4 linked regions of the Homo sapiens genome follow. The protein of the gene in region 2 interacts with the protein of the main gene of each other region in a pairwise test. Each region holds a gene or a part of one and is shown on either strand. Other genes may lie near its edges.

Region 1 (7,329 bases), on a different chromosome or scaffold from region 2:
TGGCATTCAGGATCCTCTGTGACTACTAAGGATCCTCTGGATTTGGGGACAAGAATTGACTACGGATTTCTTCTACTTTTAGGGTGAGTTCTAAACTTTGGTTTGCGGAGCTTGGAAAAATGTCATTCCCTAAGTGAGACACATTTCTTTCCTAAACTTGTGGCCATACACATTATGTGGTTTCCACTGGTCTTCCAACTGTATTCACTTAGAAAGTATGCCTTTTGCTAATAAGTCAGTGAGAGAGGGGTATCCTCAGTTAAATGGGTGGCTAAAGGGGATTCTGCTCAGAGTGGAACACCAGCAGCCCCCTCATTTTTAGGACTTCATATATGGTTATTCCATTTGAAAAGTTTAGTTACAGTACAGTTTCAAGAATTGCGGCAATAAGAGGAAACTCTGTGTTCCCTGATGAACGTTCTAAGCTTTGCTCTCAAATAATAGTCTTTGGTACAGAATCGTGTGGGTGTTTATTTTTCTAAGGCTCAGGGTAGGTAATTTAGTGAGTTTTTAAGTGGAGGATGTGCCAGGACTTTCAGCACTTACAGTTGCAAGTGGCATCAAAGGTAAAGTAACAGACTTTTTGTGCCAGTCAGAAACTCACAGAAGAGAAAGTACTGTACATAGGCCACCTCTCTTGAAAGCACATGAATTTAATTATTGTTCTGATCATGTGAGCAGGCACCTTCCAAGTTGTTCTCTCTCTCTCTTTTATTGTCTCTCCCTGTTTACTTCATTGCCTCTTCCTTAAGCTTCTGCTTTCTTGCAGATCTTCAAGATGGAAAGGGATTAGGCCTGAGAGAAGCCCCAAGGGTCCAAGAGCAGAGGCCTGGCACTGGCTGACCCTGGGAGGGAGACACACCTGCCCTCATCCACTGGCATCTAAATGGGGCCCTGCAATCAGAGCTTGGGTGGCTCCAGGTGCCTTAACACCGCTGTGCTCAGGCCAGGCTCTGACCCCAGCCATCAGACTCAGGGACAGTGACCCTTCTGACATGGGCCTTAGCTGGTGTATCCCAACTCTTTTTTGCCTTCTTTCCATTAATTTGGTGGGATGCTCTTGACTCCAGCCCAGTAACCATACCCCTCTCTTTCCACACTCACGGGTTCTCTGTGTATTTTGGGCCTGGGTGTCAGATCGCACCCTCTGCACAGCCACTCTGGCCTGGGCCTCCCACATGCCCAGGGCTCACAAGTGCCTCTGTGCTCCATCAGCGTCTCTCCTTGTCCTGGAACAGAAACTGTGCCAAGATATCTAGTGGCAGAGCCAGTGTGACGCTTTTGCTGGGCAGCATCTGGCGACTTGGCAGGGGATGGTGGGCATTTGGCAGCCTCTGATGAATTCAGGCTTTCTTGGTCACTTGGAGTGCCAGAGCTCACCACTGTGTCTGACCTGCCATGTTGTGATGAGAGAACTGGGCTCCCCTTGCATGTGGTTCAGAACCAGAGCCTGTATTTTGCATTCTGTTGTTCTCTTTTCTTTGGACCTGAATGTGCTTTATGCCAATCAGATATCACTGCCTTTGTGTTTTTCAGCTTTTCTCAACAGTCTTCTGCGTAGGCTCTAAATAAAAGGTGCTTTGCAGCATCAGTCGGAGCTGTGTCAGAGAAAGGTTATTACGGGAATGAAACATGAGATGAGGCTATTGCTAGTATGTTTCACTTTAAGTGAACTGGCCATCTTAGACCCCAAACCCAAACTTTCAACATTGATAAGTTACAAGGTGCTTATTTGCTTTGAAAAATTATTATTTTTTTTAAGCAGTGGATATTATCCTTTTATGAAACATGAAAGCTATAAATCTTCTCCCTAGTAAAACGTGGGCTGCCTGTAGGTTTTAAACAATTTTTGTGGTTGGTTCAGAGATCCCAGGAATAGACCCTAGACAGGAATCTCTATGTCTGAAAGAGATTCTACCTGGGTCGCTTGATGTGTATTCTGATTTTTCTGTTGTTTACACATAATATTTACATATTTGATTTTTCTGTTGTTTACCCACATTCATGAGTGTAATACCACATAAGGCAAGGAACACAAGCACTGAATAGAGTGAGTTCACTCAGTATTCCAAAAGTTCCTGGAAATTGACTGTAATTTGTGTTTCACAGTTAGCTTTTAACACTTTATGTTGTTAATAAGAAAAATGCAACATACCTCTCCACGCCACTCAGTTTCCACTTGTGTTTTCGGGACATCAGTAATCCCCCACCCCAAGCTGCCTGAAAAAAAATCATATGAGGAAAATGGTAGCAGTTTGTCATTGCCTAGATTTCTATAGTCTGGTGTCTTTCTAGGTGAAAATGATCTTGACCCCAGGCCACTTAGGAAGTTGACCACCTCCTTCTGGCACTAACCTTCAGAGTTTACACCGAAGGGCCCTTCTAAGGTCTCAGATTCCATCCCACATTTATATGGGTGTAAGGAGCCACCTTGGAGGCATAGCTCCTGGTCCGTAGAAGAGAGAGAAAGACCCTCTCCCAAACCTATCACCAGCACCATTAGTCCTCATGAAGTCATGTTCTCAGAATACGAAACCCTGTGGTCCCCACAGTGTAAGGCAGAGAAGATGGGCAGGAGGGCCATTAAACAGCTTCCAAGTTGCAGGGAAAACTCTTTTGACAAGTCTAAATGATTCCAGAAATAAGAAGTGGCTTCATAACTCTATTTCACTGATGTGTGATTTTGGATAATTTCTGTGTCCAAAATTCACAAGCAGGGAAGATTCATACCAGTTAATTAGCTGAGCAGTTAGAACACGTCTTAACAATTTGTACTTGATCAAGGTTGAAGATTTGAATTGGTGTAGTAATCTCCTTTAAAAATAGAATGCCAAGATGGAGATTCATTTGGAAATATTAACTTTCTTTCCTCTGTGTGTACAAATAATTCTAGGATAATTTTAAATGGATTATAAAATTCTTTTATGATATAATCACTTCCCCCCACCTTTTGTTGTAAGTTCAGCCCTCTTTTTGTTTTGTTTTGTTTCTGAGACAGAGTTTTGCTCTTGTTGCCCAGGCTGGAGTGCAATGGTGAGATCTTGGCTCACTGCAACCTCTGCCTCCTGGGTTCAAGCAATTCTCCTGCCTCAGCCTCCCAAGTAGCTGGGATTACAGGCACCCACCACCATGCCTGGCTAATTTTTGTATTTTTAGTAGAGACGAGGTTTCACCATGCTGGCCAGGCTGGTCTCGAACTTCTGACTTCAGGTAATCCACCTGCCTCAGCCTCCCAAAGTGCTGGGATTACAGGCGTGAGACACTGCACCTGGCCCAGTTCTTTTGCACTTTGAAAAATTATGATTTTCCAAACGTGTACTATTTTAAGATTCTTTCTACTTTATAGAATGTATGAATGTTAAAGCTAATAAGAGTAAGTGGTAAACTTGGTATGTTTCAAAGAAAAGCTAATAAAACTGGTTAAAAGATTCCCTAGTTCTAATTTAAGTAGGAGGCCCAGAGGAACAACCCATAGCTTCTGCTGGCTCAGGACACACAGACATTCTCATTTTTGAAGTTGCCGGGTAATCCTCTTCCTGAATCAGCCAGCAAGGTCTACCAGGATTTCCAGTCCTGAGGCCCAGGTCACTAATGATATCGGATAGTTCAGTCTTTTCTCAGTGTCTTCATGTGTAAAATGAAAGGGGCTCTGGTAGCCTAATGAACGACTCACACTGTGAATCAGGGAGGATAAAGAACATTGGTGATTGCTCTGCAGGAATACTCTGGAATAATGGAAATGCACCCAGCTAAGCCTGTGGAAATTTTCTGCCCCTAAAGAAAAGAACATTAATGAGGCCAGGTGTGGTGGCTCCTGCCTGTAATCCCAGCATTTTGGGAGGCCAAGGCAGGTGGATCACCTGAGGTCAGGAGTTCGAGAGCAGCCTGGCCAATATGGAGAAATCCCATCTCTACTAAAATTGCAAAAATTAGCTGGGCATGGGTGCGCACGTCTGTAATCCCAGCTACTCAGGAAGCTGAGGCAGGAGAATTGCTTGAACCCTGGAGGCGGAGGTTGCGGTGAGCTAAGATCACGCCACTGCACTCCTGCCTGGGCGACAGAGCAAGACTCTGTCTCAAAAAGAAAAAAAAAAGAGCATTAATTTGGTCTGAATAATTATTATAAAGCCAAAATGATCTAAGCCAGGGCTAGATCATTGTTATAGCCCTGGCTTAGACCCAGTGCTGGCCCATGACAACATAAGGATCTTGCACTCGAATGAACATCAACTTATGCGTTCCTTCACTGAGAAAGTCTTGCAATGAAAAAATTATCAGCTGAGCCAAGCATTGCGCTTAGTTTGTGATGGTTTGTGATTAGCGATGGTTTGTGACTGATGATGGTTTGGCACAAACTCTTTATCTCATATGGATCATTAACAGTTTGCAGGTGGTAGCTAATCGTCAAACCACACTTTGAGTAATACTAATCTAAACTTAAATCCCTTCGGTCCTTCTAAAACTTAACACATTTTTTTTCATTGGAAAATGTTCTGGAGGGAACACCTTCATTATTTTTTAGTGTGACAAGGCCTGAAGTCAAAACGTTTCAAATATAATCTATCTTCTTAGCTGACCAAGCTACGAAATTGGAACTTTGGTGGTCCTTATTTCCCAGGAAGTTGTCAAGCCTATTTTCCTCTCTAAATACAGGAATATCTAACTTGAGCTTCAGTTTTTTGCTTTTGTTTGTTTTTAATTCTCTGGGTTTCCTACATAAATGCAACTCCTCTTTACTCTTCTGACCATTCTGGTAAGTGAGGAACAGCAGGACTGTGTGCGTAGGTTGTATTCCTCCATGGATGCAATGGCTCGATGAATTGAGAACAAAGTGGTCAGCTTGGGTACTGATCATAGAAATACAAATATTACCATGTTGGGGACATTAAGGTATAATCAGCCTTGGGATGCTTCTGGTGCACGGTGTGTACTGTGTGAGTTGTGTGCTAATTTGCTTCATCCAGCTTTAAAAGCTTTAATATCACCACTCTGAAAATAAGCTGACCAAGTTAAAAAAAGAGAAAACAAATTTCCTTTGTGTGTCCCACATGAAAAACGTGCAAGGACGTTTTAGTGGCCAGTCCCTAAGGGATACTTACATCCACATGCATCCAGATCTTATACTTTTTGCAAATGTCAGCGACAGCTAAGAGGGGGTCAAATGCTCCGTACACGGTGGTTCCAGCTGTGGCACTCACGAGGAAAGGAACAAACCCCTGTGCGAACGAGAAAGCCCCAAATCATGGAAAACAGAGTCAAGGGTTCTTTTAAAAAGCTGATTCAAAGCAATGGAAATTCTCTCCCTAACAGACACGTCTGAATTTGAGGAAGCAGCAGCAGAGTTACTGACACCCCGGGGTCTGGGACAAATTGATGTTCACTCTCTGGAATCTGAGTTCTCTAGGCTATGCTGTTGGACCTGACTGTGTCTTAAAAGAACAGACATTCTGATTCTCAGAAGAGGCTGTAGTGAACCCAGAGGCTGTCAGGGACGTCCCCGAGACATGTATATATTCCCGGTAGACTTTCTGGCCCTTTTAACCCCCTTTGCTCACTTTCAAGTGTTCCTTATTCACAACGAGGCCTCTGAACTTCATAAATCCCCTAGAGTGAGTAGGCAGGAGAATGAAGAGAAGTAGCTCTGACCAGCCCATTATTCCTATTTGGAAAATGCCCAGATAATTTATTTCACGTTTCAGCACGGAGCGGCTAAAATAATACGCCATGACTTTTATCCGTCTAACTAGTCCTCAGTCTCTCTGGCCATGGCTAAATGAAAACTGATTGAAGTAACGGGCTGGAAGAAGGCAGGAGAATGCCACAAACAGGATCGCCATAGTCCCTCATTCCATAAGGACTCTGTCCTGTCTATAGAACGTGATGTTATGGTGTCAGTCTTTAGGTGGCAGCAAAGGTTTAATCTTCTAGTTGATGTTACTAGAAGTAGTTCTAGTACTTGCACAAGGAGGGAAACCTTCTCCTGCTGCCTGCCACTTAGTAAAACAAAACCAAACGAAAAAGGGCATATGAACGTAAATCATTATTTCTGAGTTCCTAATGATAAAATGCATGTGTATGTTATTAAATCAGAAACTGTAGGTTATATCTACCAAATGGTAAACAAAGAATTCTAGAAACAAATTCTCTGATTTGTGAGCCATCCCAGGTTGTAAATGACTTTCTAGAGCTTTGGGAATCTTGGGCAGGCATTCAGAACTTGTTACTTCTGAAAAGAGTTCTAAATTGCTTCCTGCAAAATAAGACGTCTGGAGAGCCAATGCTAACAGCATGCACCTACACGGGAAAAACTGGCCCCTTTTGAAGAACTGCACCAGGGTCTCTCACATACTGCATTAGCATTCTGCTATTTCCCCGCCTCTGAAAATATTCTTTCAAATGTGTGGGTGTTTCATGCCAACCCTCAGTACCTAGGAAGACAAATGCTTTGGAAACGCTCACTGTATCTCTGTATATAATATTTATTCAGCAATTTAAACTTTTCTAAAGCAGAGCCTATAACCCAGAGAAATAAATAGTGACTGGATGCAGAATTCTATGTTCTCATTAAACCTGGGAGATTGAGGCTTGGATCCTCTTTTTAAAATAAAACCAAAACACATTTTGTTCTCCGGTGGATGGAAATAGAAATATGGGCTGGATAAAGCTCCCGGCAGAAACTTACTTTCTGTTTGGCTTCAAGAATCCTTCTTTCAAGATCAGATGGAATCATTTTCCCTCTGGAAGGAAAAAGAAATATAGATTTGCTTTGAATAATTTGCTTCATCGTCTTTACAACGTAAGTGGCCGCAGGAGGGTAAAGTCCAACCCCAAACTGTTGATAACAATACTCGGAGAAAACAACTCCTTGACTGCTTCCAGGAAGGATGCATTTACTTGCCTGGATGAGGCATGACTATCATTTCTGGCACGTTTTGCAGACTTGTGACCGTATTGTGTTGTTCCCTATAGAACGATTACCATGACCCTCTGCTGTGCACAGAAGCTTCTTATTAAGTCATCCTCTTAATTCAGTTAAAACAAGCCTGATTTGGAGCAAAATGTTTGGCAATGAAAGGAGAGTTCAGAGAAACCTTTTTATTCCAAACCTTTGAATAAACCGACCTGCAATTTCACATACCAATGAAACAGCAGGAAGAGAAAATCCATTCTGAAATATCTGGATGAAGATACTAAGTGAAATAGCTACCTAATGACATTCCAAGTGCTAAAAGCGTAAAGAAGGCCAAAAATTCATGGGCTCAAGTTTCAAACATCCTTTCAACCCTAAAAATGCTTCTTTCCTAAAATAAAAACACAGATACTGCTTTG
Region 2 (7,329 bases):
CCTGGTAGATCAAGGGGGAAAACAATAGTTGGAATTTATGTTTGTTGGCTTCAAAACTTTTGATTCCTGGGTCCCACTCAATATAATTATCATTAAATTGGTTGAAAGGTTAGAGAAAGGGAGAGTGCCAGTATGAGCTGGGGGTGGTGCTCACAGACAGAGGTGGTGCTCCTTAGGGGATCAGCCTTGAGTGCAGTGGCCCTGAACATTCACATGAATGGGCCAGATGACAAAAAAGAGAACATATTCAAAGTCAGCATTCATGTTAAGGGGTGGGGGCAGGTGTAGATAAATAACCAGCCAGAAAAGCAACCTTGGCAATTACATAAGTGATCAACACAAACAGGCAGACTTGTCTAGAAGAGATTTCATGTTTAGAAACAATAATGCACACAATCAGCAATGTAGCATTAATAAGAACGTGACATTGGGATGAAGAAATGCAACTTGTAGGAATTCCATAGTTCTAAACCTGCATTAACTGTATCCCTTTCCAAACTCCACAGCTAAAGATGGGAGGGAGAATATGGACAACATTCAAGGAAGAGCCACAGAAGTGATTGAACTGGGCTGGGACATGGGAATGAAAGACTTCTACAAAAAAGTTAAATGAATTAGTTTATTGAACTTGGAGATGGACACCCTTATAAGGGCAATAACAAACAAAAATAGAAATAGGTTTAAGTTATAACACACAAGAATAAAATTAGATGTAAAGACGACTTTCCTCAGTTTTAAGGTGGATAAGTGGGTTGTTAAATTATAACAGATTTCTCTAGGAGGGTCTGGTGTACTCCAGGCTCGCTGGGAGGCAGACCTGGATAATCTCTGAGTATATCTGTCCCCACCTGGCATTGTTGAGACCCTTCAGAGTACTTCTTTAGGTCCATGATTGAAAATTAAGAGGCAGCCAGTGCCTCCATTGTTATAAGGGCCATAAGGTTTGGTTATCTTTGATAAAGAGAAATGGAAACATATAACAGAGCTCTTCCTCAAGTCCTGCATTGGGAACATTAGCACACACCAGGACCTTTCCTATATGTAGACACAGTGCAGATTTGATCTGTGGTGCAGCCAAACTAAAACACAGGTCATGGCATTGTTTCCCCACTTTTGGTACAAACAAGCCCTTAATCAAGTCTCTAATCTAGGGACAGTAACATCGGCTATTTGAGTGCAGGCACCCTAGGTTGTTAATGTCTGTTTCCCAACACTATTCCATTCCAATATTTTTCTTTACCTAAAGTGGGATAATGATCATAAAAAAAAACACAATAATTTTCCTTACAACACTGCTGATAACTAATAATCACACAATTGCATGTAAGTTAATTCTTTAAATTTAATCAGTCATTTATAAAACTCCCCAATTAGTAAAAGTTGGCTTATTTTAACAGCCTTAAACATTGGCCACTATTTAAACAAGACATTCTAAAAAAAAAAGCAATCACATAATAGTTTATAGTCATTTACAAGTGGATGGTATACATTTAGATACAGAGGTAGAAGTTCACCTTTACAATGTTTCACTAATACACATATACCAAATTCAAGGCACAAAATAGTTTGCTTTACAAAAAAATACTGTAAAAATGTCATTTGCTGTTCTACAATGTGAATAAACCTTTCAAAAGAATCTTTACACCCTTCCATACATATGCCATAGAATAAGATTTCTTCCTCTCACTAATCATAGTTGGCACAAAAATGGGGACTTTTCAATGTAGAAGTTCCCATTTTTAAAAACTGTTCCTTTGCAGAGCTGCTATGTATTCTAGATAAGAGTCCATCCAAAGAAATGAAACACAGCAACTTCCTGAGGAAAGGGCACTTTCTGTATGCAGCAAAATTCATAGGTAGAAAATGTATGATCTTTTAGGATAATTAGGTCTCCAGACACTTAATGAAGTATATCAGAGATAAAATTAAAAATTCAAGGCTGGGTGCAGTGGCTCATGCCTGTAATCCCAGCACTTTGGGAGGCCGAGGCAGGTGGATCACAATGTCAAGAGATGGAGACCATCCTGACCAACATGGTGAAACCCCGTCTCTACTAAAAATACAAAAATTAGCTGGGCGTGGTGGCGCATGCCTGTAGTCCCAGCTACTTGGGAGGCTGAGACAGCAGAATCACTTGAAACTGGGAGGCAGAGATTGCAGTGAGCCGTGATTGTGCTACTGCACTCCAGCCTGGTGACAGAGCGAGACTCCATCAAAAAAAAAAAAAAAAAAATTCAACTAATACTTTAGTCATTGTGACTTTAAGAAAGAGACTTGGTCACCTTTACTGTAACACTCAGACATCATTTACTTCAGTTGATGGAGATTTCAAAATTCCTTTTCAAAAGAGCTAAACATACAAACACCATGAAAAAGTCACCTAGGCCTTGCAAAACGGAAACTTAGAAAACGTGAGAAAATACAGCACTATCAGTCCTTGAAATTGCGAAGATGTCAACTGGCTAGAGTTTAATAACAAGAATGAGTAAACTCTGGGAATTCTGAAAAATCACACACATGAAACATACAGTCTAGTTATCATTTCTAGACTTCCTGCTCATTAAAAAATAATGGTAACCTGAAGATGTCACACTGCTTCTCTACAGATTTGACTGGTTTCTGGGTTCTGCCTAAAAGGACCCTGTTGGCAACAACCTAAGTTCACTTGTACTGATCACATTTTCCAAGTACTCTAGTCGGTTAATTTACACTTTATTTTTTTAAAAAGTTGATTTAAAAAAGAAACAACACAAGTTTAGAATCCATAAAATGTCAGCAATGCTGATGTGCACTGGACTGAAACATCTTGATCATCTTCTGATAGAAGTAATATTCCATACAAAAAGATTCTTAGATTCCATTTTTTGCTTCATTATTGTTTGTGGCTTGCTTTCTTTGAGCAATAAAGGGGTACATACACTTGTCCGCTCCTAGGAACCGATACATGCACACAACTGCTTCAAATGGTAGGATGCTGAAAAAGGGAAGTCACAGCTGTTAGCAAACTTGAAGTTTCAATTAAGACATCGGGCAGGCATGGAGAGACCCAGTCAGTGAGGGAACCCCTCCCAGTTACCTCTTCATGAAGGTCACGATGTACATGAGGCGGGGAGTGCAGATCATGGGCTGGTCAGTGAGGATGGCCTTCATGGCCTGCTTCACACAGTAATCAGGCTTCAGAGGTGGCAGAAAAGGCTCAATTTCTTTCCTGAAAGTTATTTATTCAAAAACAAAATGAAAAATTAACACAATAGAAAAGACTGGAAATACATATCAAAACATTAACAGTGATGTTATCTGAGTGATGGGATTTTGGGTACATTTTGTTTTCTTCATAGTGCTTTTCTGTATTTTCCAAATTTTCCTGCTATGAACACATTTTATTGGCACAGTCTGGAGAACAAGTTGGGAAAAAAAAGCAAAATTGGTCTGCTTTTCCATAAGATGAAAAAGTCATGTTTTTAAGATGCCTTAAAAGTATTTCAAATTATTTTCCTATGTTTTGCTTTCAATAGAAAGAGGAGAAGGTGTTTGGCATAGCAAACACTAATCTCAAGCAAGATGCCAAGCTTTTAGTATTAGTTGTAGTCAAAATGAGGGTGTAAGCTTTCAAAGTGAAAGGAAGGCCACAGGTATCCACTTTCCAGGATGCCGGAAGAGGGAAAGCTAAGGTATATTCTCTAGGGGCCCCTGAAATGAAGGGTATATAGACATCCTACCTTCAGTTTGATTCACTGGGTTACATGTTGAAATGATAGTGTGCAATTTATTCCTTTCATTCTTCATTTTGCCACCATAGCTTTGGACCCCTGCACCTGCTGCTATGCTACACTGGAGGAAACAGAGCTCCGCAAGACCCTCAGCAACTGCTTCCCAAGTACATAAGAGGAAAACAAAACAAAACAAACCACCAACACACACACATGTTCACACAGACACACACATGTGTGGGATAAGAGGCAGAGCTAGAGTCCATTTTCCAGGTCAGACTTGGGACTCCAAGCCTGACTTTGGAGTGATTCAAATCACCTTCCACCTATTTTGCTGCTTGTTCAGTTCAGTACACGTTAAGAATGGCCCCCAACCAACAGGGAACTGGTTTGGTTATCTTCCTTTGCCTTTCAAACTCACCCAAGCAAAGATAAAAGTAAGCATGTCTTCACAAGCATCCTCTTAATGATTCACAGTTTTGTTTATTCTGCTGAGCTCAAGTCAGATGTAACTTGACATTTATATTCCCATATACCTCCTTTCTATGTGTGTGGGTATTTTATTTCATTTTTCAGTATATCTAAATGGTTCTTCTCATTCTGCCAGAGTGAATCTAGTTACATACGCTTGCTGCAAAAAGGAAGTTTCCAAATCTGGAGTGTAATATTCAATGGTCTTTTCAGAAGAAAGGCACGTTACTCTCTGTGACAGTAACATTGCTTCATATCCAGACCCAAGTCACATGAAGGAATTTTCTTCTAGAATCCTTATTTACCAATACCAATTTTAAAGAAACAAAATAACTCCAAAAGATGAGCTTCTAAGGAAAAGACTGGATACTTATGTTTTCTCTTTACAGAGAAGCCATTTCCTATCTAATGATTCTGGATTAATTTCTGCAAATTAGTATCAGTGTGTAGCACCAGTCTCTCCTTTGCAAATCTTATACACCAATTTTACAAACTTTACAAATCTTGACCAATAAAAGCCACAGATTGTCAAATGATAGTTAAAATACAAGGTTATGTTTGAAAGTCCAGTTCCACATATTCTCCCAACATATTCTTTTTATCAGTAATAATATAGGTTCTCACTGACCTGATTCGGCAGCCTCTGAACATGCCAGTGTCTACAAGATAAGGGCAAACCAAGGTTGTTTTAATTCCATCCTTTTCAGCAGCCTTTAGTTCATGGCTCAGGGATTCATGAAAACCCACAACTCCAAATTTACTGGCACAGTAATCCTGAGTTAAAGAGGGGAGAAAGCAGAAATACTAAGCATATGCCCCTATCTCCAACCAAACTAAAGCTTCCCTGGTCCTATTACCATGTTTAGATGTCTAATACATAAGGTTACAGGTGACTACACAAAGAAAAGGAAATCATTTTAAAAGACAGATACCTGGCTGGGCATAGTGGCTCATGCCTGTAATCCTAGCACTTTGGGAGGCCGAGGTGGCTGGATCACTTAAGGTCAGGAGCTCGAGACCAGCCTGGCCAAAATGGTGAAACCCCGCCTCTACTAAAAATACAAAAATTAGCTGGGCATGGTGGGCCTGTGCCTGTAGTCCCAGCTACTCAGGAGGCTGAGGCAGGAGAATTGCTTGAACCTGGGAGGTGGAGGTTGCAGTGAGCCAAGATCACACCACTGCACTCCAGCCTGGGTGACAGAGTGAGACTCTGTCTCAAAAAAAAAAAAACAAAAACAAAAACAAAAACAAAAACAAAAAAAAAACACAAACCAGATACCTGATGTGGTTCAGTGCAGAAATAATATTTTCAAAGCAACAGCAGAAACAGATGAATACTTTTTGTCACATCAACTAAGTATCATATTACTTTGGGGAAGTTACCATAAAGGATTCTATGAAAGCTCACAAGCTGAAGTTAAAATGGAGAGAGGTTCACTTTGAAGTGTCTGGAAAATTTACAAATGGTCTCTTGTTCAGTAAAGGAGAAAGAAAAACCAGTTTGTTTAAATTAATGCAAGAAGAATAAAGGCAAATCTAGCTTAGGCTATAAATTGTTATGATTTGACTTTCTTTGTAAGGCGAAGTTAAAATGAAAATGATAATCATGCCTTGTAATCTTAAACTAGAACTTAACCTAAAGGCACAGAATATAGAAAAAAAGTTATTGTCCATGGCCCAACTTCAGAAATGGAATCCCTTGATATAGGTGCTATTTAAATAATGTGTCCTTTTGCATATTTGCATGGAGTGATGTTTTCAGTTTTACAGGCATGCAGAGGACAAACAGGATAGAACAACATATATACTCATACTTTATAATCTGAATATCGTGAAGAACAGGGTTTGATGAAATCCAGTTCTACAATTCTACAAACTTACAATGCAGGATACCTGACCGCCTCATCTGATGGGCTAATTAATACAAGATAGCTCAGTTTTGGCAAGGTGACCACAACCGAATGTGAACCTCTGGCCTCATTCTTCTGTTCCCCACAGCTTTCCATGGTTCCATTCTTGGCCCTGTGCCTCCTGCCATCGTCAAGTGAAGCTGCTAATGAAAATGGGCACACTGAGGGCTGGCCCATCTACTTTTCTTGTCGCTGCTGCTTTGTCAAACTAGTGTAAGAGATTTTATGGCAGAAGAGGCAGAAGTCCATTCCCTTTCTTTGTTTTGTTTTAGAGACAGGGTCTTGCTCTATCTCCCAGGCTGAAGTGCAGTGGTGCCACCATAGCTCACTGCAGTCTTGAACACCTGGGCTCGCACGATTCTCCCACCTCAGCCTCTCAAGTAGCTAGGACTACAGGTGTGCGCCACCACACCTGACATAGAATTCCATTCCAGTGGCTGGCCCTGGGTTCCTGTGGAACATTCTACATGCAGCACACATGCAGAGTGCCTTCGTGCAGCTTTCATGAATGGAGGGGCAGCAGGTGCTCTCCTGGAGGTTCTGGTGTACTTATCACAGGATAAACAGATTGAACGAAAGAAATGCTATATATCTGACAAACCTCAACTCCGGCAGTACTGAACAATCCCAAGGAACTTGCAACTGTCACAATATGACCATGATTAATCTCCAGCATCGTAGGAAGAAAAGCCTTAGTGGTCTGAAACAAAGTAAGATTCAAGTTTTAGAACTGATTTCATGAATTTCATCTAAAACCCAGTCCAGGATCACAAAACAAACTTTTATTCACATGATGTTTTGTTTCCCAATTCCTTTAAAAATATTTTATATTTATCAAAAAGATCTTTTAAGTGTCTGGCTAACTTAGCACTGTATCATCGGCATGGCAGGCCTATTATAAGTCGTGACCAACAAGACTGTAACTTAAAAGCTTTTGGGGACAGTGTCTAGAGATAAAAAGAGAGCCATTGGCAGAAGCTTCTTAATTACCTTTCAAGTGACAGTTATCTGCTAATTTAAAGTACTCCCAAGCCAGGTATTTGTTTCTGCTCGTGACACTTCAATGCAGCTATCTCATGGTTTAGGAGGGACCACAGCCTACTACAAACATTGCCTTGTATTAATGTGTGCCTTACGGCGATGTCTACGTAGTAATAGACCTATCAATGAAGAGATACTCCAGCAGCATGCTCTGGGATCCCAAGGCTTATTACCAAAATGTACTAGCAGGAGACAAA
Region 3 (7,875 bases), on a different chromosome or scaffold from region 2:
ATCCTCTGCTTTATATCCTGTGATTCCACATATTCTACCAAGCATTGTTTCTTACACTTCAAATGGCCAACTAAATGTAATGTTTCAAATGCTTCCTTGGTGGTCTACTGGTTAGGATTTCTGGGCTCGCAAATGCCCTATGGAAGAGGGTCTGAGAGAACAAGCAGCCATAATCTATTTCTGAAAAGCCTGCTTAAAATAAGAACGTCTTTGGATTCCTATTTCACTAGAGTATATGCCTGGAACACAGAAAGTATCCTGTTTGGATGTTCTACACTTCATTACAGGCCTAAGTGTCAAAGAGAAGGACTGACTTTAAAATAATCTTCCAGAAATTACCTCAGGTGTTAGTGAATATTATATCCAAGAGATTTAAGAATTCCTTCTTTTAAACCAAAGATTCCAGAGAAAGCCTTGGTACTTAATCTGGCCTGCTTTACCTCACAGAAATTTGCCTGGAATTAACTTAAAAAAATTTTTTTTCACCTAATTGGTATAACTGGGAACTATAACCATCTGCCCACTCCCAGCTCATCCAGGAGACATGCCAGCAACAGATTCCAATCAATTTGTAACTTCAGCTGAAATTGTAGCTAATTATTGCTAGATGTGTAAATGTATTCTACAAAAAAATTGTATCACAAAACTAAATTATCTTGAAAGCTTATTGCAAAAAAATAAGTCACTCTATGCCCATTAATTACAACTGCATTCCAGCTAATATTCACACATCAAGTTTAATCATCTTTATTTTTGTCAATAAAATTATTCAGGCAGGATGTCCATTCGCTGATATAGAGGTCTATTAAAGGAAATCTTCCTATTCTGATTGCTTTCTTTTGCCCATACCTTGGACTTTTACATTAAGAAATATAGCCTAGTTTGAAAATATTTTCATTTAATAAGCAAATAAGTAGAAGTAAAAATCTACCTAGGAAGGAGAACTTATTCTTGAGACAGGACCAGGTTTCAGCAGGTGGGAAAGTCTTATTTTGCTTGGCCCTTTCTTTAGGAACTGCACCAATTCCAAATCATCTCTTCCATGCAGGTCCTATTATTATTTTGCAGATAAGTGAACTGAGGCACACAGGTGTCAAGTCACTTACCCAGTGATCACCCAACTGGGAAGTGAAAACTGTCACCTTTGACAACCTGTTCCTAACTCTTGGATGCACCCACAACATGTGGGAGATTTGGAAAGCATCAACAAGGAGGTGAAGGAGAGTACTGACTGAACAGAGATGCTCAAAGCTGAAATATTATTTCAGAACCACAAAAATTAACTAGAAAAAAATAGAATCAACGGAGCTGATGTTTTAAACAAACACAATTAAAGACTAACAGTTCAAGCTATGTTTGAGTTTTATAACAGCATAAAACAAATGTGCTTCAACACTGATAATTTGAAAAATGACACATTAAAAATAATGTACAAAATACATCAGAGTACTTGCTTGCCTTCAGAATAATTTCAAAGGTTGTATGAAGTCATTTACATAGCTTTTTTTTTTTAGAGTCTCGCTCTGTCACCTAGGCTGGAGTGCAGTGGTACAATCACTGCTCACTGTAGCCTCGACCACTTGGGCTCAAGTCATCCTCCTGCCTCAGCCTCCCTAGTAGCTAGGACCACAAGCGTGGGCAACCACGCCCGGCTAATTTTTACATTACTTGTAGAGAGTGAGTCTCCCTATGTTGCTAGGCTGGTCCCGAACTCCTGGGCCCAAGCAATCCTGCCTCCACCTCTCAAAGTGCTGGGATAAGCAGCATGGGCCACTGCCTCCAGCCTTGTTAGCTTTCATACTTCTAATTATGTTAATAGTATACACTTGTAGTATAAAAAAATATAGTAATTAAAAACTTTACCAAACAGATTTTAAAACTCTAATATTTTAATAATCAGATACAAAGTATTATGTTACGTTTCAATTTGTAAGGTGCTAGTAAATAACAATGGAAAATGACATTTTAATATAGATTATGGCACTTAATTAATGTGTATTATTGTGTAATATTAAAGGTTGAGATGAGAATCAAGTATTCTAAAATGACATCAAAATGTTGACTCTAAAGAAAATAGAATATGAAATGTTTTCTGAAGAAATGTCTGAAGAAACATTTCATTTCCATGTTCTAGTTTTATTTAAAATTAATTTTTTGATGTAGAAATTATGCTTTACTAAATTAATTATAATGCTTTCACCATAAATCTAGCACAGATATTCATTAACTTCATCAGCAGACCCTTAGAGGAGAAAAATATAAAATGCATAACTCTAATAAACTCGGGGAAGGTATGACAAATTTTGCAAGGATAAAGAGACATTACAAAAAAGCCCGAGGTTTAAGTTTCCTAAGAGAATTGCACTGAGACCTTGAACTAGTGATCAGATTTCCTACAGCGTCCTGGAAAACCTGGTACTTTCGAAGTGAATTCTATTGTTCATTTCATCAGGTTTTCATGGTTTTTTTGTATTTTATAATTTATTTTAAATTTAGGGCTCCCAAGTGTTTGCCTCATTCCCCTATGTTGGCAGCACTGATAATCCGGCCTTCGTTTTTGTGTGAAATAGGCACAGACGGAGTCTGAGAGCAAAAAAAACCCCACACAAACAAAAACAAAATGTTTGCGCAAGGCTGAAAGCCGAGCGAGAGCCCAGCAAGTGTCTCTGTTGAAATTCTTTGGGGTTTGCAGGGACCAGCCGGGCCGAGGCAGCAAACTGCCTGTTCCCCACGCACCCCAGAAGGGTCCGCGTGCGAGGAAATACCAGCGACCTCCGGGGCTAGGGCTTCCGTGGCGCAGGGTCAGCGAGGGATGAACCCGGGAAGCCACTATGGGCCGCTGCTCCAGCCCCGGGAACGCAGAGCACCGCTGGCTAGCAGGCTCAAGCTTCGCCAGGGACACACCGACCCGGAAGTGCAGTCGCCCCCACCGCAAGTATTTCCGCTTCCCTCCGCAAGTCCCCGGCGCGGTCCGGCCCCCAGCGGCTGAGCAGCCCCCTCCCAGACTGCGCACGCACCTGTGTTCACTGCGCCGGCCTTTCAGCTGTTGGAGAGCGGAGACCAGGACCTGCTGGCGCGCAGTGGCGGACGGACAGTAGCCCTGGAGCCCGCGGGTCCTAAGGTCCCGCGCCGCGGCCGTCGCGTCCTGACCCAGATAGCGGAGGCGCCGGGGGAGGAGCCCGCGGCCGCTCGGCCCCCCGCTCCCGCCCCCTCTCCCTCTCGTGGTGGGTTCAACTCTACCGGGACTGGCGTTGGGTGCACCTTTTGCAAAATAAAATTGCACGTCGCGGGGCGCCTGGCTCGCGCCGGACCGTGTGTCTCGGCCGTCGCCTCCCTTCGAAGCCGGTCGGCACCTTTTCCCCCGCCTGGGCTCTGGGCCTCCGCGCTAGCCCCAGCGCGTTCCCTCTCGCGTTGCTGCCACTCCGCACGCCCACCGCCAGCTCGCTTCGTTCCGGCTCTCAAACCCACTCCCTCTCCCCTAGTTAAACCTTTTTCTGTGCCCTTTCTAGGCACAACCTTGCACTTTACTCCTCACGACTGAATTAAAGGCAGACGCCTTGCACTAATTACTGATATCTGCAGCCCCGTGTTCATAGCTTTATCTCACGTTTTCTTTTAATGAGCAATTTTGACAGCCTCTTCCTTCTCCCCGCCATTCCGAGTTGCCTTTAGATGAAAGCCGCTGTTTTTTCAGATGCCTGACATTTAAGGTTTTACCCAGCTTTCTGTGGTTTGTATAATGAAACTAATTCTGCTAAATACGCTCTTAAAAACTGGGCCGGGCGCGGTGGGTCACGCCTGTAATCCCAGCACTTTGGGAGGCTGAGGCAGGCGGATCACCTGAGGTCAGGAATTCGAGACCAGTATGGCCAACGTGGCGAAACCCCTGTCTCTACTAAAAATACAAAAAATTAGCCGGGCGTGGTGGTGGACGCCTGTAATCCCAGCTACTTGGGAGGATGAGGCAGGAGAATCGTTTGAACCCGGAGGCAGAGGTTGCAGTGAGGCGAGATCGCGCCACCGCACTCCAGCCTGGGTGATAGAGCGTCTCAAAAACAAAAACAAAACAGTACATACACTGCTTCTGTATTGTCCGCACCTTGAGTATTACTGCCTCAAGCTTAGGTTTGCATAACATTAATCTCTAAACTTCCCACCAATATATTGAGCAGAATTAAAAATGGGTACACTCTTTCTCAAAACAGCAACAGCAGACAACACCCATAAAGCCATGAAGAATCCAGAAGGCTTGTTTTGCAATCCATATACTACTGTTTACGGATAGGGATTCAGGGATTCTATAGGCTCTTTAAGATGATTTTTTGAGCTTCAGGCAAGCCGCATTGAAGAATAAGTAAGCCTGGCCATGGTCATTTTATTAAAAGTAATTTGTAGCAGGGCGCAGTGGCTCACGACTGTAAGCCCAGCACTTTGAGAGGCTGAGGCGGACGGATCACTTGAGGCCAGGAGTTCGTGACCAGCCTGGCCAATATGATGAAACACCATCTCTACTAAAAATACAAAAATTAGCCGAGTGTGGTGGCGCACTTCTGTAGTCCCAGCTGCTCGGGAGGTTAAGGCATGAGAATTGCTTAAACCTCAGAGGCAGAAGTTGCAGTGAGCCGAGATCGGGCCACTGCTCACCAGTCTGGGACAGAATGAGACTCTGTCTCAAAAAACAAGAGCAAAAACCTAAGTTGTATTTGGAAAAAGAGCAGATTAATCTTTAACCTCTCAGATTTGGAACTAGTAAAATATTACCTTCTACAAACCCACTTCACTCCTATTTATTATGGTTTGCAGCAATCTTGCAATATAATGCTAGCTTTATTTAACTAGAATACAATATGATATAAACCGATCATGCAAAACAATTTTCTCTTTTAACAAGATTTAGATACCAAAGAAACATGACTGTCTCTTCGCTAATACTTAAAAGGAGCTTTTCAGTATTTAAAACAAAATTTAAGCTTTTCCAGGAGCCCACTGAGTTGTTCACTGCTGCATCCCCAGCACATTGCACAGAAGAGGCTTTCAATAAAAATGTGACGTATGGGCTGTGAACAAGGCCTTACCAGTCTATTCCAAGAGGAAGATGGCAGCTGATACTGACTTGATCTTCAGGTTCAGGACATAGACTATGTCACACTTGCTCCTTTCCAATACATTTGTTTCTATTCCTTGATGAGTAAAAATTATCTGAAAGGTAGAAACTCAGGGACAGTGACAACCATTGACCTTGGCAAAGCTGTAACTAAATAGCAAAGACAGGCGCTATCTTTGCCAGGTACTGTTGCAGGGGTGACATAAAAAAGCAGAAATGATTCCCCTCCCCACTACTAGGAATGTCAGTCTAAAAGGAATATCTGAAGGAAAAACCAGAACATACTAAGAATCTCAGAGTTGCTGTTATTCATCAAACCAGTACGGCATGACAATCATTTGGGAGGAGTGGGTACAGACCCTTCACGATTTGCCCCAACCTACTTTTCCAGCTTTTCTCCGCTACTTCCACCAGACATCATTCTACACTTCAGCACTAGCTAAGCTACTGATCGTCTCTCCACAAGCTGTATCCTTTTTATCCTGTTCCTTGTGCCTGGAATATCCTGTTGCTTGCCACCCGTCCAAAACCAATTCAACCACTTCAACCTCTTTCCCTTGAGAAGCTACACACTCTCTCCTTCCCCATAAGAAGTATTCATCCATGCCCCATCAAAACTTATGGAAGGACCAGGAGTTTCAATGAATACAAAATGCCTCCCTGCTAGCTTACAGCAAACCTCTCTGGTGTACACTATATAATTACTGCTTGCCAGTGACTGTGTGTTTGTGAGGCTGTGAACATCTTCAAGGATGGTAGCATTTATCTTTGTATCTTGGGAACCTGGCATGGTGCACACCCTCTATATTAGATAACTATTTGAAAGTAGTATGTACATTTGAGGGAAAAGCATGAGGAAATGTATAGTCCTTCATTATAGTAATGTGAGATGGGAGTGTCAATTTTTTTTTTTTTTTAGGTTTTATTTGAGTGGTTTTATTTCCAGGAAGCAATTGAATGACAAAGTTAGTTTTAACCCTTTAACAGTTACCAATATGCTATATAGTTAACTATTCATTTTCTAGTTCCTTGTTGTTATTTCCAAATCTTATCAAACTTACAAGCTGAATTTCTTAATTTGTAAACTGAAGGCTGAGCTGCAGGTATAATTAGTACCACTATGAAATCCCCAACCCCCGCTTCAAAGAGCAGAATCAACCTTCATTTCCAGGCTGGTTTTAAGAAAGTATTTTAAGGAAAGGGTTAAGGAAATATTTTACTGCAAATAGCTGGGGAAAAACTTTTAAATTAAGAACACCCTAACCATTGAGAGAGAGGGATTTAGAGAGGGAGAAGCGCACAGGCAAAGAGCAGGGGCAGAGGAAGAAGTCCCCCAGGTGTAACCGAAGCTCTGAGTTCCCCGAATCATTTGTAAACGAGGAGGAGCAAAGGGCAGCAGCAACAGGTACAGCAGGAACATTTATTGAGTCTTCTACACAGTTTTCAAGCTTCGTTCTTTATATGAATTATCTTATTCCATTTTCCCAACAATCTAATGAAGTAAATAACATACAGGTGAGGAAACCAAGGCTTCAAGAGGTGAAGAAACTTGTCCCAGGCCACATAGTCAGTTTTAGAGACAAATATCAAACTTAACTTTGTCTGAGAGCCTTTTCTCTTAACCCAGCCCATCTTGGACCCCCAGACCCTGCCTTTGATAGAACACTTGAAGGGACTCTTCATAGCACCATTTACAAGAACATCATAGCCCTTCTAATGTGATATTACATCATTTGTATCCCCCACTTCAGTTATTTAGGGTTCAGCTTTCACTGCTTCTGTTAGAGGAGAAACTGAATTCTCAAATCTGATCATTTGCCCCATGGGGGGTTTTCTGCAGTTTACCACAACCTCTAATCCACAGAGTATAAAATTACTTTGTGTTTATGATATTCAGGTTAGGCTAGGAATAGAATTTGGGGAAAAGAGGAATATAATACTATGTCTGATGTAGTTTTAAAAAAATTAGGCAGTCTCTAGAACACAGGAAAATTACAAAAAAAATTTCTGAAAAGAAACTAACTTGGACTTTCTAAGGTAAAAATGTTTTATCTGAAAAAAGCATTAGGATAAGCTTATTAAATATTTCCATAGACTAAGTGATTAGTGCAATAAATTATTAATCACTTAAATCCAATAAAATGGTTGGCCTAATACTCCTATACTGAACAAATTAAAAATGGTATTTTAGGAAGATATGTATGAAAGAAAAATTAACAACGATATTTATGTTATGCTACTTAGCAGTTCAATGTTGAATCAATTTATTAAAAGTATACATACCTAATTAAGATATAGAATTCTTATTAGAAACTTTCTATTTCATTAGAAACATTAAGTTTTTGTTCCATGAAAAAAGTCATTTTCAAAAAGGCATGTACTAACCTTGCTCAGTGGTTTTCCGCAGTATTTCGGTGATGATTCAAGAAAAGAATGACGTTTCTTTAAAAATTGTGGAAGATTTTTTAAGTCACATTCCTCCACTGATTTTCCATGGCCTTTGTAAATAAAGCACAGCCTTGGATACAATCCAAAGTGGAACTTGACAGATTCAGAGGAAGAGTGGTTTTGCCCCTCCCTCTGCATTCTTTCTTCATCCTGGGAGATGATGTTCAGGGACACTGTTGACAGTATATACATCAACTTCACAAGCTAAGGTCAGTTTCACTGGCGCTAATTAAAAATAAAGGTGAATATTCATCATCATCAGACAAAATGTTGTTAACACGTGTACAAAAAGTTAAAATAACTGGATATGCTTAATTACATAT
Region 4 (7,329 bases), on a different chromosome or scaffold from region 2:
ACAGACAGTGGGCTTGGCAAAAACACACCTCAGACAGGAAGGGAGGCCGCGGAGAAGTTCAGCTGGCAGCCGCTCACAGCCACTGTTCCAGCTCTTCCCCTTTCATGCTTAGCCCACAGAGAACACTCCGGGCCAGGCCTAGCACACCCCTGCTGCTGGGGGGCTCTAGGCATCCTGAGTGAGCCATTTGACTCTCTCACTGAAAGCAACCGATGTCCCAGCTGGGTGCACCCCAGCTGGGTGACGGGAGGTGGGACTTTGGAGTCTTGGTCAGGGGCTCACCTCCGTGTGAGGCATAATTCTGCCCACGCTTTCTGCCTTCTGCTCCACAGTGTCCTCAGGGAAGTGCGCGAATGTCACGGGACTGTTCTCTGTGGTTCCATAAGCAACCTAGAGGGTCCAGAAAGGGTGTTTGAAGAGGGCTCAGCACGTGCAGAGGGATCAGGTGAGCTATCTGAGGAAATGGGAAGGAATTCATAAAAGAAAAGGGAAAGTGGAGGGCAGCCGAATGGTGGAAACAGAGACATCATTGGTAGGGGCCTGGGGTCAGGAGGCAGAGGTGCTGGGAGTGAGCAGACTAGATCTCTGCAGGGCCCCAGATCTGAAAGAAAATTGAGAGCAGGGACACCATTCTCTTCCAGCTGGAGCTCTCTCAGTGCCCCGTTTCCCTGGAGCAGCCACCTGTCTGTGCCTGTGGCTCCGGTATTACCAACACCCCACACTTCTCCCCCCATCCCCTGGCTGCCTTAACCCCACCTTCCTGATTTCAGGCCACATCCCCGGCTCCTCCCTTCCAAGCTGAAGGCCCCATAAACTTGATGAGAAAGCCAGCCTGCCTTGGCCCAGCTAGGAGTGGCACAGACACAACCCCACCCCCGCATTCTGCAAACCCTGAACAAGTGCCTGGCCTTGGGGCAGGCGTCCCCCAAGCTCTGGAGAGTTTCCCGTGAATTTATTTCCATCAAAATAAAAAAACAACCTAAGCAGTGATTTTAAAAACCAGTGGTACCCCCACCCCACCTCCCCCATTTCCAGTGGTTGGAAAGCCTGAGCAACAGAAAAACCAGAAGCCAGCCTTGGAGAAGCCTAAATACCATCAAGGAATGGTCTAGGCCAAGTATGACCCTCCTATCCTAGAGGCAAGGGGCAGAGAGGTTTGGGAAAAGGGCAGGCCCTGGAAACCAGGCCCCAACACGAGGGTACTGGGTAAGGGAAGAGAGGCTAGTTACCCCGTATCCTAGGTCCCCTTTAATCAACGGATACCAGATCTCATCCATCCTCCTCCCTGCACCAAGCTTCCCCCATATCAGCTGCTCTGGCTCTGGCACGGCTGGGGTTTGGTTCAATGTGGGTTCTGGTTTCTCCTTCCACCCCTCATCACAGACAATATCCTGTGCCAGGCAGCTTGGAGCTCACCCTGAGGCCAGAGCTGTGACCCTGCCTGCTCACCCTCCCCTTTCCACAGGAATCCGGACATCGTGGCTGGCAAGTGGGCACACAGAAATCTGGCGGGCTGGGGCGGGACTGCCCACAGAACTTAGGGTCTGGCAGCCAGAGCCGTCCAGGGCTGGTCCCTCGACCTGCCCCACCCCCTCCCGCACCCCTCCTCACAGTCCTGGGGCCACCGCCCGAATGTGGCATCTGCCAAGTACACCTCGGCGCCACTCAGCCGCCACCCTGAGACCCCTCAGGGGCGGGTCCTGACCACTAGGGTTGGGGATGAGGGATGGAGATATTTCGGGGCGATGAAGGAGGGGGGATGGTGCGACTGTGCTTGTGGCCTGTGGTTTCCAGGTGTGTTTGCCATTCCTGTGGGCCACTCTCCCCCACTTCCCACTTCTCTGCTTAGCCTTCAGCGGTGGAAAAAGGGGATGAGGGCGCCGGCGACAGAAACGCAAGCGGGGTTGGAAGAGAGGGGTGGGGGCGCGCCCGAGGGTGGGGAAGGAGCTCGGGTCTACCCAGGGCCAGCTTCGGCGCGTCGAGTCTGAAGTGGGAGACCGACGCCGGGGCGGCTCTCACGCTCGGCAGGCGCCGCACAAGCGCCCCTTTAAAGCGCAGGCAGCTGGCCCACCGCAGGGAGACGCATCCAGCTGTCCGGCCCCGCTTCCTCCCGCCTCGCATCCAGGGCACCCGGCCGAGCGTGTGTGGATGGCGCGGCGTGGAGGCTCAAACCTGAGCAAACAAATAAGTTGAGGGAACGCCTCCCTCTCTCCGATGTAAACTCGGGGCTCCAGACATAACTATTCCCCCTTCCCAGAAAAGCCCCGGGAAAGGCGGTAGGCAGAGGAGCACCATAGGAGAGCGGGGGGCTACAGCCGGGGCTCAGGGCTCGGGGCTCGGGGGCCACGGTCCCACCCCCTCATGCACGGTAGCCGGCTGGGGGAACGGCCCCGCCCCCTTCCCCGTGGAGGGCGGGGGCGCATCTCTGGGCGCGAGCGAGTTAAGCCCAGTGGCCTCGATGCTCCACGTAGGAGCTGGCTCGGCTGCCGGCTGCGGTCAGGGCCACCGTATAAAGAGGGCGGCAGACCCGAGCGCCTAGGACTCGCCGCTGCCCGCGCCCCGCCGCCGCTGCTGCCCCCAGCCCCGGCCCCAGGCGTCCCAGCCATGGTCCGCCCAATGCTCTTGCTCAGCCTCGGCCTCCTGGCTGGTCTGCTGCCGGCGCTGGCCGCCTGCCCCCAGAACTGCCACTGCCACAGCGACCTGCAGCACGTCATCTGCGACAAGGTGGGGCTGCAGAAGATCCCCAAGGTGTCAGAGAAGACCAAGCTGCTCAACCTACAGCGCAACAACTTCCCGGTGCTGGCTGCCAATTCGTTCCGGGCCATGCCGAACCTCGTGTCATTGCACCTGCAGCACTGCCAGATCCGCGAGGTGGCCGCCGGTGCCTTCCGCGGCCTCAAGCAACTTATCTACTTGTACCTGTCCCATAACGACATCCGCGTGCTGCGCGCAGGTGCCTTCGACGACCTGACCGAGCTGACCTACCTCTACCTGGACCACAACAAGGTCACTGAGCTGCCCCGGGGGTTGCTCTCCCCGCTGGTCAACCTCTTCATCTTGCAGCTCAACAACAACAAGATCCGTGAGCTGCGCGCAGGCGCCTTCCAGGGAGCCAAGGACCTGCGCTGGCTCTACCTGTCGGAAAACGCGTTGAGCTCCCTGCAGCCCGGGGCCCTGGACGACGTGGAGAACCTCGCCAAATTCCACGTGGACAGGAACCAGCTGTCCAGCTACCCCTCAGCTGCCCTGAGCAAGCTACGGGTGGTGGAGGAGCTGAAGCTGTCCCACAACCCCCTGAAAAGCATCCCGGACAATGCCTTCCAGTCCTTTGGCAGATACCTGGAGACCCTCTGGCTGGACAACACCAACCTGGAGAAGGTGAGCTCCTGGCTGTGGGCTCTGCCCTGGTTCCTTCTTCCCTTCCTGGAGGCCCCAGGAGCCAGGGCCACAGCTGGCACCATCCCCCGTCCCCAGGTTCCCTGTCCCTCTGGCTATCTCCAAGGTGAGCAGCTCTGCCACCTCCCTTCCTCGCCTTGTCACATCCCTACCCTAATCCCTGTCTGCTGCCAGTCTCGACCACTGCCCTCCTAGGATTCTTACATATAAAAGGAGTGGGACTGCCCTGGCCCCACAAAAGGCCCCCTAGGGCCATCTCCAGTGCTTCCAAACCCCCAACTGTGAGCAGCAGCCACCTCTTCCTGTTGGGCCTTCCACCCCTCCTCTGCTGTTTTTCCCGTCTCCAGTAAACCTACCACCCCATAAAGGAAGGTTTGTTTATTGAGGAGCCTTCCAGAGGAGCTGGGCAGATCAGGCCCACAAAGAGACCCTGTTCCTGGTGGGGGCTGTGCATGTGTGCTAAGGGGGAGTGGGGGACTGGGGAGTGAGGGGAAGCAAATGCCTGAGGAAGACATTCTCCATGCCCCATAGAGGCCCTGGTGGATGGCCCTGCCCAATCCACACAGACACAATTCACTGCATTCTCAAGTCCATTGCAGCTCAGTAGGCGTGGGACCAAGGGCTCCCCCAGGATGCAAGCATCGTGCCCATGGGCTCCGTGAAGGGGCAAAGGCAAGACCACTATTGTCAATCCTTGGCCCAAGACCCCAGGTGTCTCTCCACAGAGAAGACTGGCGTGACTCACTGTCTCCAGACTGCTAACTGCCCTTTGCCCTCCTCCGTCACTAGACCCATCTCCTGTCTGCATCCTCACTCATTCCTTTCTCCCCTGGGGTGCCCAGTGTCTGGCCAGGTGGGGCTACCTTGGATCAGAGCAGAATCCCTTCTCTGGGACTGGAAAAATCACCCTGGTACAGGGGCTTCAGCCAGGAGGTTTGGGTGGGGAACCAACAAGGTAGAGGAGAGTCTGGTTACTGGAGACCTTCATACCTCAATGTGGGCCACAGGAAAGGGTGCGGGTGTGGAGATGTGGGCAGAATCTCACTTGGGCAGCAGCCAACCTTTGTCTGGGTGGAAGGAGCCTGCTCAAGCCTGCCCTTCTTCAGCCCTGCCTCTCCCCAGCTGAAGTTGGAGTCCCCTGTGGCCCACCAGTGCCAGAGTGGTCTTTCAGTGGGCAGCAGAGCAGCGAATTAGGGGCTGGTTTGGGGCAGGGGAGGCCAGACAGGAATTGTGGCGCCTGGGCAAAGGTGTGGGCACCAATAGAACATTTCCTCTGGAGCCGTCCAACCTGGCCAAAGGCTCCACCAAGGTGGCTTCACAAATAGCGTCTGGCTGGCAGTGGGGGAGCAGTGAGGACAGAGCTGAGGGAAGTCCTGGGACCCTGGGACTGTGGGGAGCCTGGGCCCACTGCCCACTCCACCAAGCACAGACCAAGTTCACCGTGTACCAGTTTGGATTGCTGGGGCCAAACTCTGGCAGCCCCACAGTCCCAGTGTTTGTGCAGGGATTGTGGTGCCAGGGGAAGAGGAGCTGGGTGTGGTCCTGTGGCTACTGTTTACCCACTGCTGTGACCCAGGGCAAAGGACTGCGCTTTTTCCGTTTCCCCATTTGCATATTGAAAATAACACCACCTGGCTGGGCGTGGTGGCTCACGCCTGTAATCCCAGCACTTTGGGAGGCTGAGGCGGGTAGATCACGAGGTCAGGAGATCGAGACCATCCTGGCTAACATGGTGAAACTGCGTCTCTACTAAAAAAATACAAAAAAATTAGCCGGGCATGGTGGCGGGCACTTGTAGTCCCAGCTACTCAGGAGGCTGAGGCCGGAGAATGGCGTGAACCCGGGAGGCGGAGCTTGCAGTGAGCTGAGATCGTGCCACTGTGCTCCAGCCTGGGCAACACAGTGAGACTCCATCTCAAAAAAAAAAAAAGGAAAAAAAAAAAAAAAAGAAAATAACACCATCTGTCTCAAAGGGGGTTGTGTAGATTGGATTATCTGAGATCACTTGGTCATACTGCTTTGAAAACTGGGAAACTCCTCAAAGTGCTATGGCTCAGGTTCAGGGAAGGATCCTGCCCCTCTGGCACTCGGGTGCTTACTCATTCACTCATGACCACCTTGCTCCCACCTTGCTCCCACCTTGCTCCCCAGTTCTCAGATGGTGCCTTCCTGGGTGTAACCACGCTGAAACACGTCCATTTGGAGAACAACCGCTTGAACCAGCTACCCTCCAACTTCCCCTTCGACAGCCTGGAGACCCTCGCCCTTACCAATAACCCCTGGAAGTGTACCTGCCAGCTCCGGGGCCTTCGGCGGTAAGAACACTTCCATGTCACTCCCAGAGCCCACCCTCATGTGATAGAGGCACATTAGCCCTGCACTAAGACATGTTGGACATGCATCCTAGATCTGCTACCTAATAAGCATGGGACCCTGGGAGCCTCAGTTTCCCCATTTGTAAAATGAAGATGACAGCTTCAGACTATCCTGTGGCCAAGTCAATCCTGGCCCCATAGTTCACTGCCCTTCCCCCCAGCACTCCCACCTTCTTCCCCAGCCCCAGCAAGTTTCTGTCTCTCCAGGTGGCTGGAAGCCAAGGCCTCCCGCCCAGATGCCACCTGTGCCTCACCTGCCAAGTTCAAGGGCCAGCACATCCGTGACACGGACGCCTTCCGCAGCTGCAAGTTCCCCACCAAGAGGTCCAAGAAAGCTGGCCGCCATTAAACAGGTGGGGGCCAGGTAAACAGGTCCCCTATGTCCCTCTTTGGTGATTCCAGCAAGTGAGCTGGTATCTTCCAGGATACCCCCTGGCCCTGGAGGGTCAGGCAGACCCTCCATTTTTACAGAGAGAGGAGGGGACGACTGGGTCCCCTGTTGAAGGGAGGAAAAGGTCCTGCCCAGGACTTCCACCATTTTCTTCAAGCATCATCTGTGTTGTTGGAGTACTGACATCGATCTTTGCCTCTTTGCAGGTTCTGACCCAGCCAGTCCTGGTGACTGGCCTCTGCCTTCCACCGGAGAGACTACTGACCTTCTCACCTCCACCCATACCTTCTCCCCACAGCCTCTGCTGATGCACAGAGCTGCCTACACCTAGACACGTCCTGGCAGGGGGCCTCGGGCACTCCACTACCAACCCAGCTCCACCCAGCAGTGTCCTGGGGAGAAGGAAGGCTGAGCCTCTCCCCAGCCTTCATGCCTTCCCCACCCTCCAGCTCCTCTTGGAGAAGCTGTTGCTGAGACCCCCCCCCCAAGTCAATCAGAACCACAACAGGTTGGTCATCAGGATGGCCACCCTCCCAGGATCATCCTTCCTCTGTTCCTCTTTCCCTGCCACGTGGAAACAATCATCAGATCCTTGCCCCACCCCTTGCTTCCAGAAAGGGTTTTAAAGCCCATGCCCCAACTCTGCCAGCCCCCACCTGCCAGGACGTTCTAGCAGGACATCGGTGCTTTGCTGTCCATCTTCCCATGCTGCAATTTCTTCCTGAGATTTCTATAAATATAAATGTATGTATGTATTATATTTACTCCCCTGCCACCTATCTCCTTCACCCACCAGGTGCTGATGAGGTCAGACTATCTTTTCTCACATCTGCTTTCTGGAAGGAGGGCTGGCTGAGAGGGTCTCCTTTGAACATCTGGCCTGGACTCATCCCCATGTCTGTCCATCTGCTGTCATCCCAGGCCTGGCCTGCCCACAGCCCGGGCCGCAGTCACCACTCACCACCAGGTCCTTCATATTTATCTTGTTGATGATGGCTCGGATCAACTCTGGAGGTGCAGGGGACCCAGCAATGACACCTGAATCAGAGAGAGGGCTGACACAGCTCCCCAATTCTCCAGGCCCAGTGGAGTCCTTTCACCTACAGCTCATTCAGGGGAGGAACATTCCCTTTTCTCCTCTGACCCCGAGCCTTTCCTACACCTGGC

The links.
Region 1: the proteins of RDH10 (region 2) and GAD2 interact in binary tests that used the Homo sapiens proteins (3 or more experiments, as listed by UniProt).
Region 3: the proteins of RDH10 (region 2) and RMDN2 interact in binary tests that used the Homo sapiens proteins (3 or more experiments, as listed by UniProt).
Region 4: the proteins of RDH10 (region 2) and ACSF2 interact in binary tests that used the Homo sapiens proteins (3 or more experiments, as listed by UniProt).

Annotation. Positions count from the first base shown.
Region 1 is NC_000010.11:26,268,527-26,275,855, reverse strand, and holds part of GAD2 (glutamate decarboxylase 2), read right to left. Parts: intron 6,738-7,329; coding exon 6,683-6,737; intron 5,217-6,682; coding exon 5,100-5,216; intron 2,221-5,099; coding exon 2,156-2,220; intron 1-2,155. UniProt on the Homo sapiens protein: Catalyzes the production of GABA.
Region 2 is NC_000008.11:73,318,558-73,325,886, reverse strand, and holds the end of RDH10 (retinol dehydrogenase 10), read right to left. Parts: intron 6,792-7,329; coding exon 6,693-6,791; intron 4,956-6,692; coding exon 4,810-4,955; intron 4,148-4,809; exon of another isoform or gene 3,800-4,147; intron 3,209-3,799; coding exon 3,077-3,208; intron 2,975-3,076; coding exon 2,851-2,974; 3' UTR 606-2,850; downstream 1-605. UniProt on the Homo sapiens protein: Retinol dehydrogenase with a clear preference for NADP. Converts all-trans-retinol to all-trans-retinal. Has no detectable activity towards 11-cis-retinol, 9-cis-retinol and 13-cis-retinol.
Region 3 is NC_000002.12:37,920,568-37,928,442, reverse strand, and holds the start of RMDN2 (regulator of microtubule dynamics protein 2), read right to left. Parts: upstream 3,157-7,875; 5' UTR 3,018-3,156; intron 2,913-3,017; exon of another isoform or gene 2,737-2,912; intron 1-2,736.
Region 4 is NC_000017.11:50,464,089-50,471,417, reverse strand, and holds part of ACSF2 (medium-chain acyl-CoA ligase ACSF2, mitochondrial isoform 2 precursor), read right to left. Parts: intron 7,201-7,329; coding exon 7,124-7,200; intron 6,923-7,123; exon of another isoform or gene 6,893-6,922; coding exon of another isoform or gene 6,819-6,892; exon of another isoform or gene 6,121-6,818; coding exon of another isoform or gene 5,979-6,120; intron 5,712-5,978; coding exon of another isoform or gene 5,548-5,711; intron 3,379-5,547; coding exon of another isoform or gene 2,605-3,378; exon of another isoform or gene 2,538-2,604; intron 391-2,537; coding exon 283-390; intron 1-282. Other genes in the region: CHAD (chondroadherin precursor), read left to right, coding at 2,605-3,378, 5,548-5,711, 5,979-6,120. UniProt on the Homo sapiens protein: Acyl-CoA synthases catalyze the initial reaction in fatty acid metabolism, by forming a thioester with CoA. Has some preference toward medium-chain substrates. Plays a role in adipocyte differentiation.